2 separate regions of the Homo sapiens genome follow, and region 1 is linked to region 2. The links come from fine-mapping of genetic effects on gene expression. A gene starts in region 2. The other region holds a variant in brackets. All regions are shown on one strand. Distances are from middle to middle.

What was found. PIP is the estimated chance that this variant, and not a neighbour inherited with it, causes the effect.
Region 1: its variant is fine-mapped to the expression of LRRN1 in whole blood (INTERVAL, PIP 0.96).

The regions. Positions count from the first base shown.
Region 1 is chr3:3,982,114-3,986,503 of GRCh38, forward strand. It overlaps the pseudogene PNPT1P1. Among named protein-coding and RNA genes, the nearest start is that of LRRN1, 180 kb to the left of the region's middle. The variant G/C (reference allele first, on the strand shown) is at 1,967.
Region 2 is chr3:3,797,413-3,801,802 of GRCh38, forward strand. It overlaps LRRN1 (leucine rich repeat neuronal 1), which reads left to right and starts at 2,019. Exons shown (of 2, transcript NM_020873.7): 1 at 2,019-2,507. It overlaps LOC100130207 (a long non-coding RNA gene), which reads right to left and starts at 3,463. Exons shown (of 6, transcript NR_149025.1): 1 at 3,289-3,463. RefSeq lists silencers at 1,920-1,989, 2,000-2,089, 2,230-2,339.

The DNA.
Region 1 (4,390 bases), 180 kb after region 2:
CATCCAAAGTATTTCACCTGAATTTCTTGGCCAACTTCTAATCCTAGGGCAGTAGGATGTTTAATATTTCATTGATCAAGTTGTGTGTTATAAAGCAGTACCAAAATCATATTTGGATATAATTTTACCATTACACCAGTATCTCTGCTTTCAGTTATTGTGGCAGTACACACTGCTCCAAATTCTAATTGCTGCTCCTGATCATCCTTGCGGATTTCAGCAATGAAGTCTCTTGCCTCATGCATAGCACCGGGTGTTGGTGCAAATATAGAAAACGTTTCTTCATCCACCTGACTAATAGTTACAACTGTTTCAGCCTGAAGTTTTTTAAGTTATATCCACCTGGTCCAACAAATTTTTCTCATTTTGATAATGGAACCTGAACAGTTTCTACAACAGGTCCATTTTCTTTTCTAGATGCTTGAGGTTTTGAAATAGCTTTGTTCATGATCTGTAAAATCTCCTTTTTGCCACTGAAGCTTGTTGAATAGCCTCCATTACAATTTTCATTGTTATTCCAGGTAATTTAATATCTGCCTGTAATGCAGTTATTCCTTTATTAGTGCCAGCTATTTTGAAGTCCATGTCACCATTGTAAGCTTCAATTCCCAGAATATCTGTTAGCAAATGATAATCTTCTATTTCACCCTTCTCAAGATCGGTTTTGGTGGCCAATCCCATTGCTACACCTGTGACAGCAGATTAAATTGGAAGCCCTGAATCCATTAATGCTAAACTTCCACCACATGCAGATGCCATAGAAGATGACCCATTTGACTCTAGGACTTCAGATGTAACTCTTATGGCAAAAGGAAAATCTTTGGGAATAACAGGATACAAAGCTTTCTCAGCAAGAGCATCAGGCCCAAGTTCTCTTCTATTTATACCGGTGACTTTGACAATTTCATTAGTTGCATAAGGAGGAAACTCATAGTGCAGCATGAAATTTTTATCTTTTATCCCATTTATAGTTGTTATAACTCGATCCAACTTAATACTGGATTCTAATGAATCAAATGTAACAGCACAAAGCAGCTGTGTTTGTCCTCTTTGAAATAATTCTGATCCATGAAGGGTTTTAAACATATCTACCTCACAACTTATATTCCGAAGTAAAGTCAAATCCCGACCATCGCATCTTTTGTATTCATTCAAAATAATACTTCTAAAAACTTTCTTTGCAACAGTATTGAAGGATTCTATTATCTCATATAGATCGACCTCTGGAAATATTTCTTTTAGTTGTTCCTCTGTATCTAATCTTATTTTGTTAACAGCTTCATCTCTGGAAATTTTATCATGTTCATAATCTGTAAAAACTGCATAGAGTCTCTCCATAGTGAGTTTATGAGCATGTTTCACAATCTCTTGTGAAGGGGTAAATAACTTCTGAGGTGTCCTCTTGGTAACACCAATTTCTTTTACCAGCTGCTGGATGCCCTGAATTATTTGCTGGGTATATTTCACTCCCACTTTGATAGCGTGGCAAAAGTCCTGCTGTAAAATGTTCTCTGCAGAGGCTTCCAACATGACAGTCTGACTTTTAGGTGCTCCAGCAACCACTACATTTAAAGTACTAGAAGACATTTCTTTTCTTGTTGGGTTAACAACACATTCTCCATCAGTCATTCCTATTCATACTGTCCCAACAGGTCCATTCCAAAGAATATCTGATAATGAGAGGGCTACAGAGGTTGCCATTAATTGCTAGGACATCAAGTTCATTAATACCATCTACTGCTAACAGATTACACAGAACCTGTATATCACAGAAGTAGCCAGCTGGAAAGATAGGTCTAACTGAACAATCTACTATTCAACGTGTAAGAATTTCTTTATCAGAAGTACTAATCTCTCTTCTCAGAGGGTTTGTGGGAATTCTACCTACTGCAGCAGCCTTTTGTCCGTAGTCAACCACCAAAGGCATAAACTGGGAAGGGGAAGGTTTTGTTTTACTGACGGCTGT[G/C]GCCATTACCGCAGTGTCACCTGACTGTATTACAGCAGAGCCATTTGCAAATCTGGCCAGCTTTCCAGAGGATATTTCTAATTTCCTGTTGCCCAAGTCCATGGCCACAGCTTGAGACCCTGTGCTACTCAATAGTGCTCGCACCTGCAACTGGATGAGTGCCCGATCCCACCCTGGCAGACAGAAGGGACCATCACTCAGCGGCCGGAGCCACAGGCTCAGTGAGGTCTTAGCTTCCTCCTGTTATCCTCTGTAGCAATGCCTTAGTGTTTCCTTCACAGCACTTATTACAATTTGTAGTCATTTACTGATGTGATTATTGGTTATTATCCCTCATGAGTCTCACAGCTAAATGACAGCAGGGATCAAGTCTGTCTTCTTCCCTGTGTCACAGCTGTATCTGGCACCAAGCACATACAAGGCATTTGATAAGTATTCTTTAACATAATGAAAATGAAGTACATTTATAACACTATTCTTTCTACCCAAAGAGAACAAAAAAATTATGGACTTCCATTCTGTGTCAATATATTCAACAGGATAGAAGAAATAACACAACTGAAGGTTGCAAAATACTGAAAGTTATCAACGCTTATTCTCTAGAGATCCTTGTTAAACAATGTCCCATCCATCAAGGGTGAATTAGATTTGTCCCTGGCTTGAGGACAGAATAAGATGACTTCACCCGACTCCTTATAAACTTATAATTTTATGAAAAATCCATGAGCTCTCATCTTTCCAGCACTCTGATAACGAGGTAATTACCCTTTTAATGAAAAAGGAAGCCTTTTTATATCTATCCCCATTGAATTATGGACCTCAAAATTGAAATGAAGTCTAATAGACATCAAGCACAACTACCTGCCAGTTCCTAACAAGGATGAGGAAAAAAAAATAGTGATATCTGGGGAGCCAACGGGCAGTATGACAGGGTGTCCTTCCTGCCTTCTCTGATGACACTTTGCTATCAACACCAGTTCTTCCTTTTGTGCCTTACTCAGTTTGTAAGCCAGTCTGCAACAGTAGAAAAGTCATTAGTCACCCTTCCCTATCTGTTCCATGGGCTTTGAAATGAAGCCCTGGTTCAGGTTCCCATTTAGGTGTGACTTTCTCCATTCCTACTATGTTGACTGTAATCAAAGGGCTGGGCTCAGTCCTGACAACACGTTCAGATCCCACACTGCACTAGCCCTGCTCTAGAATCTCAATCTATTTTCCCAGTGTCCTAAGACCTGTCAAAGCCCCTGCCACCAGCCTCTTCCACTACTGACTGAGCTCTTCCATCAAACGACTGATTAATGGAACCACAACACCGACACCCCACATGAATTGCACCCGGAGCCCACAATCCATACTCCTTCCCCATGCTCCTTCAGTTTATCGATGCTGTTTAATTATCAGTAGTGGCTCGGATTAAGCCCTAAACATCTAGCTACCCTGTTCCACAGCCAAGACTGTTACTCTCACTCCTCACTCCTAGGTCTTGCCTAACTCCCCCCATTTCAGGTATTTTATAGCTGAGTCTCTACAAGTTATCACTCACAGCTAAATTCACACTTTTACTTGGTCTCTACATTTTAATCCTTGGTGATCTCTTTTTATGCAATTGCCAGTTTAGAGGCATAATCTTGTAAACCTTTACCTTCTGGACAGTAGCATCGGAAAGTTCATTACTTTCAGTTACGATACAACAGCGAGTGACAAATGCAGCTTTGGAAAGCGGAAAACTTCTTTCTCCTTGAGAGTCTCTGCACAACTTTCCACATTTGGAACCCAAGGACATTTCCTTTCTCTCTCTGCTAACATGGAGTACAGAAAGGTTACATTAGCTAATAAAAGCCCTCTGCTGACAAAAGATGCGTTTGAAAAGTCACTCGAAAAGGGAGCTCTCTCGATAGCTTTATTAAAATAAAATGCCATATCTTTGTGAAGTTAAAAGTCTCTGGATTGTGGTTAAAAGTCTGGTCTGCTCCTTATACAATGGAAAGTCTTTCAAAAGCCACGTGTTTCTTAAGCTGGCCTCACCATGCATAACAGCTAGAATATAAATCTAGACTCTCGCCGCCCATCTATCTTTTCTTTTCTGTGTCATGTAGAGGTTCCTATGTGAAGGAAAGATCTCCAGAATAAGATGAGAGATAGCTTTTATAAGAACACCAAATGATAGAAATTATGGAAATCATGATATTGAAATAATTTCTTCCAAGTTAAAACATCAGGAACATTTTTGCTTATCAGATAGGCAAGAATACTTAAATTTGAATGTTGGTCAGCATTCAACAAGAAGGCAGTGCCTAGACCCTTGGCTTATGAATTGGGGGCAATTGCAGCTTCCTTCATTCCTCTGAAGGGTTGAGAACTTATGCAAAGCCATGGGTGCAGTGCTGTCCGACGCCCTGCAGAGGTGATGCCAAGAGTAAGGCT
Region 2 (4,390 bases):
AGACAGAGTCCATTTCCTCCACTGGAGCAGCTAGTGCCTTTGAGATATTCTGTCACATGCGGAATCATTATCCCACCTGTCTGAATTGATGTCTTGTTTTAGTCTTCAATACCTGCCTAATAATGCCTAGAGCTTACATCTGTCGTTGAATGCTTACTATATACTAAGCACTGTCCTAAGCATTTTACATGTTTACTCCCACTTAACCATCACAATCCTTTGGGATAAGTACTGATATTAACCCTACTTTAGAGCCAAGGAAATTAAGCCTTAAAGAGATAAAGTGACTTGCCATTAGGGACACAGCTCATAAATTGCAGGGCTGGGACCTAAGCAGTGTTGGCCTGGTTTCAAAATTCACACCTTGGTCCCTGACTCACACCATTCTCATGAAGTCTCTTCCAAAACCTGGAGGCTGTTCTAGATCTGGCCTCCCAAGAGCAACTCTCACCATCATTAATTGCTCCGACTGCTCCTCCAAGACCTACCTCTGTAAAGCTCCTCCTTGAAGGGCACAACCTCATCTCTCTTCCACTCCCAGGAAGGCAGGCTGGAAACCTAATAGAGACTCCCTAAGAAACCTGCATTCTATCTTTCCCTGACCATTCAATTTCCGTACTTCCACCAGAGCCCAACTTCTATCAGACAAACTCCATGCTATCTGCATGCTAACTCCATGGATAATCTGCATGAAAAGGGGGGAAAGAGACAAAATCATGTTACAAAACTTGGGCAAGGGTCTAGACTCAACTTGCTTTGAAAGATCTTAAATCTTCCCATTCATTTGTAGACAGCAGTGGGCCTTTTTCTTCCTCTGCTCTGCACGACCTTCTAGCCCAAGTGCTAGTATCACCTTTTCCTAAAGACTTTTAAGACAAACTGTGACCATTTATGTCTACATGACACAGTTTCAGGATAACAAAGTGTGAAGACACACAAAGACGTCAAACATTTATCAGAGACCTAAGCGAAACGCCAATAAATGTTACAGGGATCAAGAATATGGTTACTGACATTGAATGTATCCTGTGGCTTTGAAGAATCCAAAGGATGATTCTCGAATAATGTATCCTTCCAAATTCTCCAGAAGTTCTAAGTTTAGACATCATAATGAAATGTCACCACGTTCCTCTGCCAGAAGTTGTTCAGTACTGAGGGGCTAATGATGCTTTCGCTTAAAGCCGATTCCCCCAATAAAGGGTGCCAAGGCTTTTCTGAAGCCCTGCTTCCGGCTGGCGACTTTGAAGCTGAGACGCAGGTTCACGCGCAGTTTCCGAAGACCTATTCCGTCCCCACCCTCCTCCCCTTCCTCGGAGACACCTCCACTTAACACTGCCTTCTCAGTCCCTCGCCGCCTGTTTAAACACAACTTCCACCCCTCACAAATCAGAAAGCTGTAATTTCAAAGTTTCAGAAACGTTTTCGGAAAGCCTCCTCCAATGGGAAGCGACTTCGCCGCTGAGTTAAGCGTCCGAATCCTCCTTCCCGCGGCAGGGACACCGGCCCGGGCCAGGTCTGCGGAGGACGCCCCCGGGCGCGCACACACAGCCCGAGGACGCGCCCTGTATTTTAAGACGCAGGGTCGGATTTCACCCCGAAACTTGGCTCCCACAGCCCCAGGCCGAACTGTGTCTGGTTCTCAGCCCCCGAGCCCGAGTTCTACGCCGCAAAGAGATGGGGCCCCATTGTGCCTAGCTGGCCTCCTAGCACGGACGTGTATTTTCTTTTGGTCTGTCTTTTGCTAAAAACCGGCAGTGCGCTTCGCCTCCCTGCCCAGCCGCAGCCTGCCGTCCCCTAGACAAAAAGCGGCGACCGCGGCCCGGCCACCCGAGCCCCGCCGCGCTGCGCCTTTGTTGGGCGGTCCACAGATGGTGCCCAGCACGGGGCCGCGCCGAGGGCGGGGGCGGGAGGCCGCGAAGAGGGTCGGGCGGGAGGGGAGGAGACGGCGGAGCAGCCAATCCGCGCGCGGCCCATCAGCTGACCGCCTTTGCTTACACCAGGTGCACGCCGGCTGCGGGGAGCACAAAGCGGGGCGCACCGCGGGCGCCGGCAACGAGCCGGTGAACGAGGCGAGGCCCGTGCGCCCGCGGCTGCAAGCGCCCGCCTGGCGGGGAGAGGGGCCGACGGCGTCAGCCCGGGCGGCGGCATCCCTAGGCGCCTGGGGCGCCTTCCTCCGGACCTGGCCGCTCGCTGCCCCGCCCTCTGCACCCCACTTCTCCGACCCTCCTTCCCAGTCCTGCCTCCCCCTGCCCTGGCCTCTGAGAGCCGACTGAGCCCAGCCCCGTGCAGCAGCGGTTGCCTGTGTCGCCGCCTAGTCTCCGGTCTTGGTGCTCTCCCGGGGGTGCCCCAAGGAGCCAGTGCGCGCTGCGGGCTGGGAAGGAGGCGCCGCTCAGCTAGTCCTCCTCCTCCTCCTCGTCTTTCTCCTCCTCCTGCTGCTGCTGCCGCCGCCGCCGCCGTGGGTGCCGGGTCCGCGCGCACCCCAACACCCCCACCAGCTGGGCCTCGGGGTAAGTCCCTGGCCGGCCGCGCCGCGGCAGGAGGTGTGGGAGGCAGCGAGGGGAAGTCGAGGCAAACTTGGTGGCGTGGGAGACCCTACGGGGTCTGGGGAACCTCAGGGTAAGATCGCGGGCCTGAGGGGGACGAGGGGGCGCGGCTCACGGAGCTGGGGAAAATGACGAAGTCGGGAAACGAGAATATAGTGCCCCGTTTCCCCCCGTCCCCCTTGCCAAAAAAAAAAAAAAAAAGGTGTGGGAGAGCGATAGTTGGGAAGGCAGGCCAGATAGAAACAGGCAAAAAAAGGCAGTGACCGGAGCCGAGCCTGCTGGATTTCAGGGGCCGACCAGGGGAGGGAGGTGCCCGGGGACGGGGAGGGAGGAGGGCTGCCGGGATGTGAACCGGGGAAGGCAGCTGGGGCTGGAGAGCAGCGCGGAAAGGGGGCCCAGGGAGCTGGAAAGAGGGCCAAGAGGAGGGCAAGGAAGGTGGCGGGCGACGGGGAGAGGAAAGAAAAAGGGTGTCTTGGCGGTGGCCTTGGTAAGAGAAAGGGGCAAGGGGTATAATTGACAAGGCACTGAAAGTATTGAAGTCAGAGCCTTGGGAAGGATCTACCGAACTCTCGGCGGTCCACGCGGGGACAGACCTCAGCCCGTGAGCCTTGAGCTCCACGCGGGGACAGACCTCAGCCCGTGAGCCTTGAGCTCCACGCGGGGACAGACCTCAGCCCGTGAGCCTTGAGCTCCACGCGGGGACAGACCTCAGCCCGTGAGCCTTGAGCTCCACGCGGGGACAGACCTCAGCCCGTGAGCCTTGAGCTCCACGCGGGGACAGACCTCAGCCCGTGAGCCTTGAGCCCAGAAGGAGTGGCAGCCTCAGGACGTTTGCCAGGTGGCCTGGAATGTGAGGGAAGCCTCAGCCCCGCCAGGAACAGAGCTGGCGCTGAGTTCCCGGCTCGGCCCGGGTCAGAAGCGAGGAAAGTTTGCCGGCGAGTGTCCTTTGTGCTGCGTGGAGAGGGGTGTGGGCGGCCGCCGACTCGGCGCTTCCCCGCCGCCCGCCCAGGGAGTCCCTGCCTGGCAAGCTGGGGCTCGGGGAAAAGTCCAGCAGCGAGAGGGCCGCGTGTCCCGGGACGGTTCCAGGGGAGCCCGCGCGGAAACGCGGACCAGGCGCTTCGGCCCGGATGCCGGATCCAGGAGAAGGGGACCTCGCTTGCCGTGTCCACCGCCGCGGCCCCAGCGCCAAGAACAGAGCCTGGCCGTGAGTGAACGACTGGCCGGGGTACAAATGGTTCTGAAGCACTTGAAGCTCACAGGCAAAGGCTAAGAGTCTAAATCCCATCCCGCCGTAAGTATTTTCATTCCCAAACCTAAATCGTAAAGGAAAAGTGGAATTCTAATTGGGTGAGGGAACAGGTGCTGCCGACTCTGGCTTTTGCGTGGAGGATTTTCTAAAAGACAACATGTTTTGTTTTGTCTTGCCATGACAATCTAAATCATGTTAGTGGAATAGGCTCATTATTTCATTTTTAAAAGCTAGGGCTGGAGGAGTGGAAAGTTCAGGAAGGCACTTTGATCAGTATAAATCTAGAGTAAAAGTGTTATTGGCTCCAGGGCCATATGTGTCCCGAAGTCTCTGATTTGCATGCAAATGTGAGCGGATCCTGGCAGATGTCTGGCCTCATCCATTCACATGAAGGAATTTGAAAAGACAAGGAGTCTTCAGTTAACAATAGACCTTAAGAAAAGAGAATAAAGACGCAGTGTGAGTTTTTCTGTTTGGGAATTCCATGGTTTGCTGACACCTTTATTCAGGAGCCAAATTCTTTAAGTGCTATTGTATTGAAAGCTCAAAGTGCTGCTTGCTCTTTACCTGGCTGTATATATTCGTGCAATATTCAAGC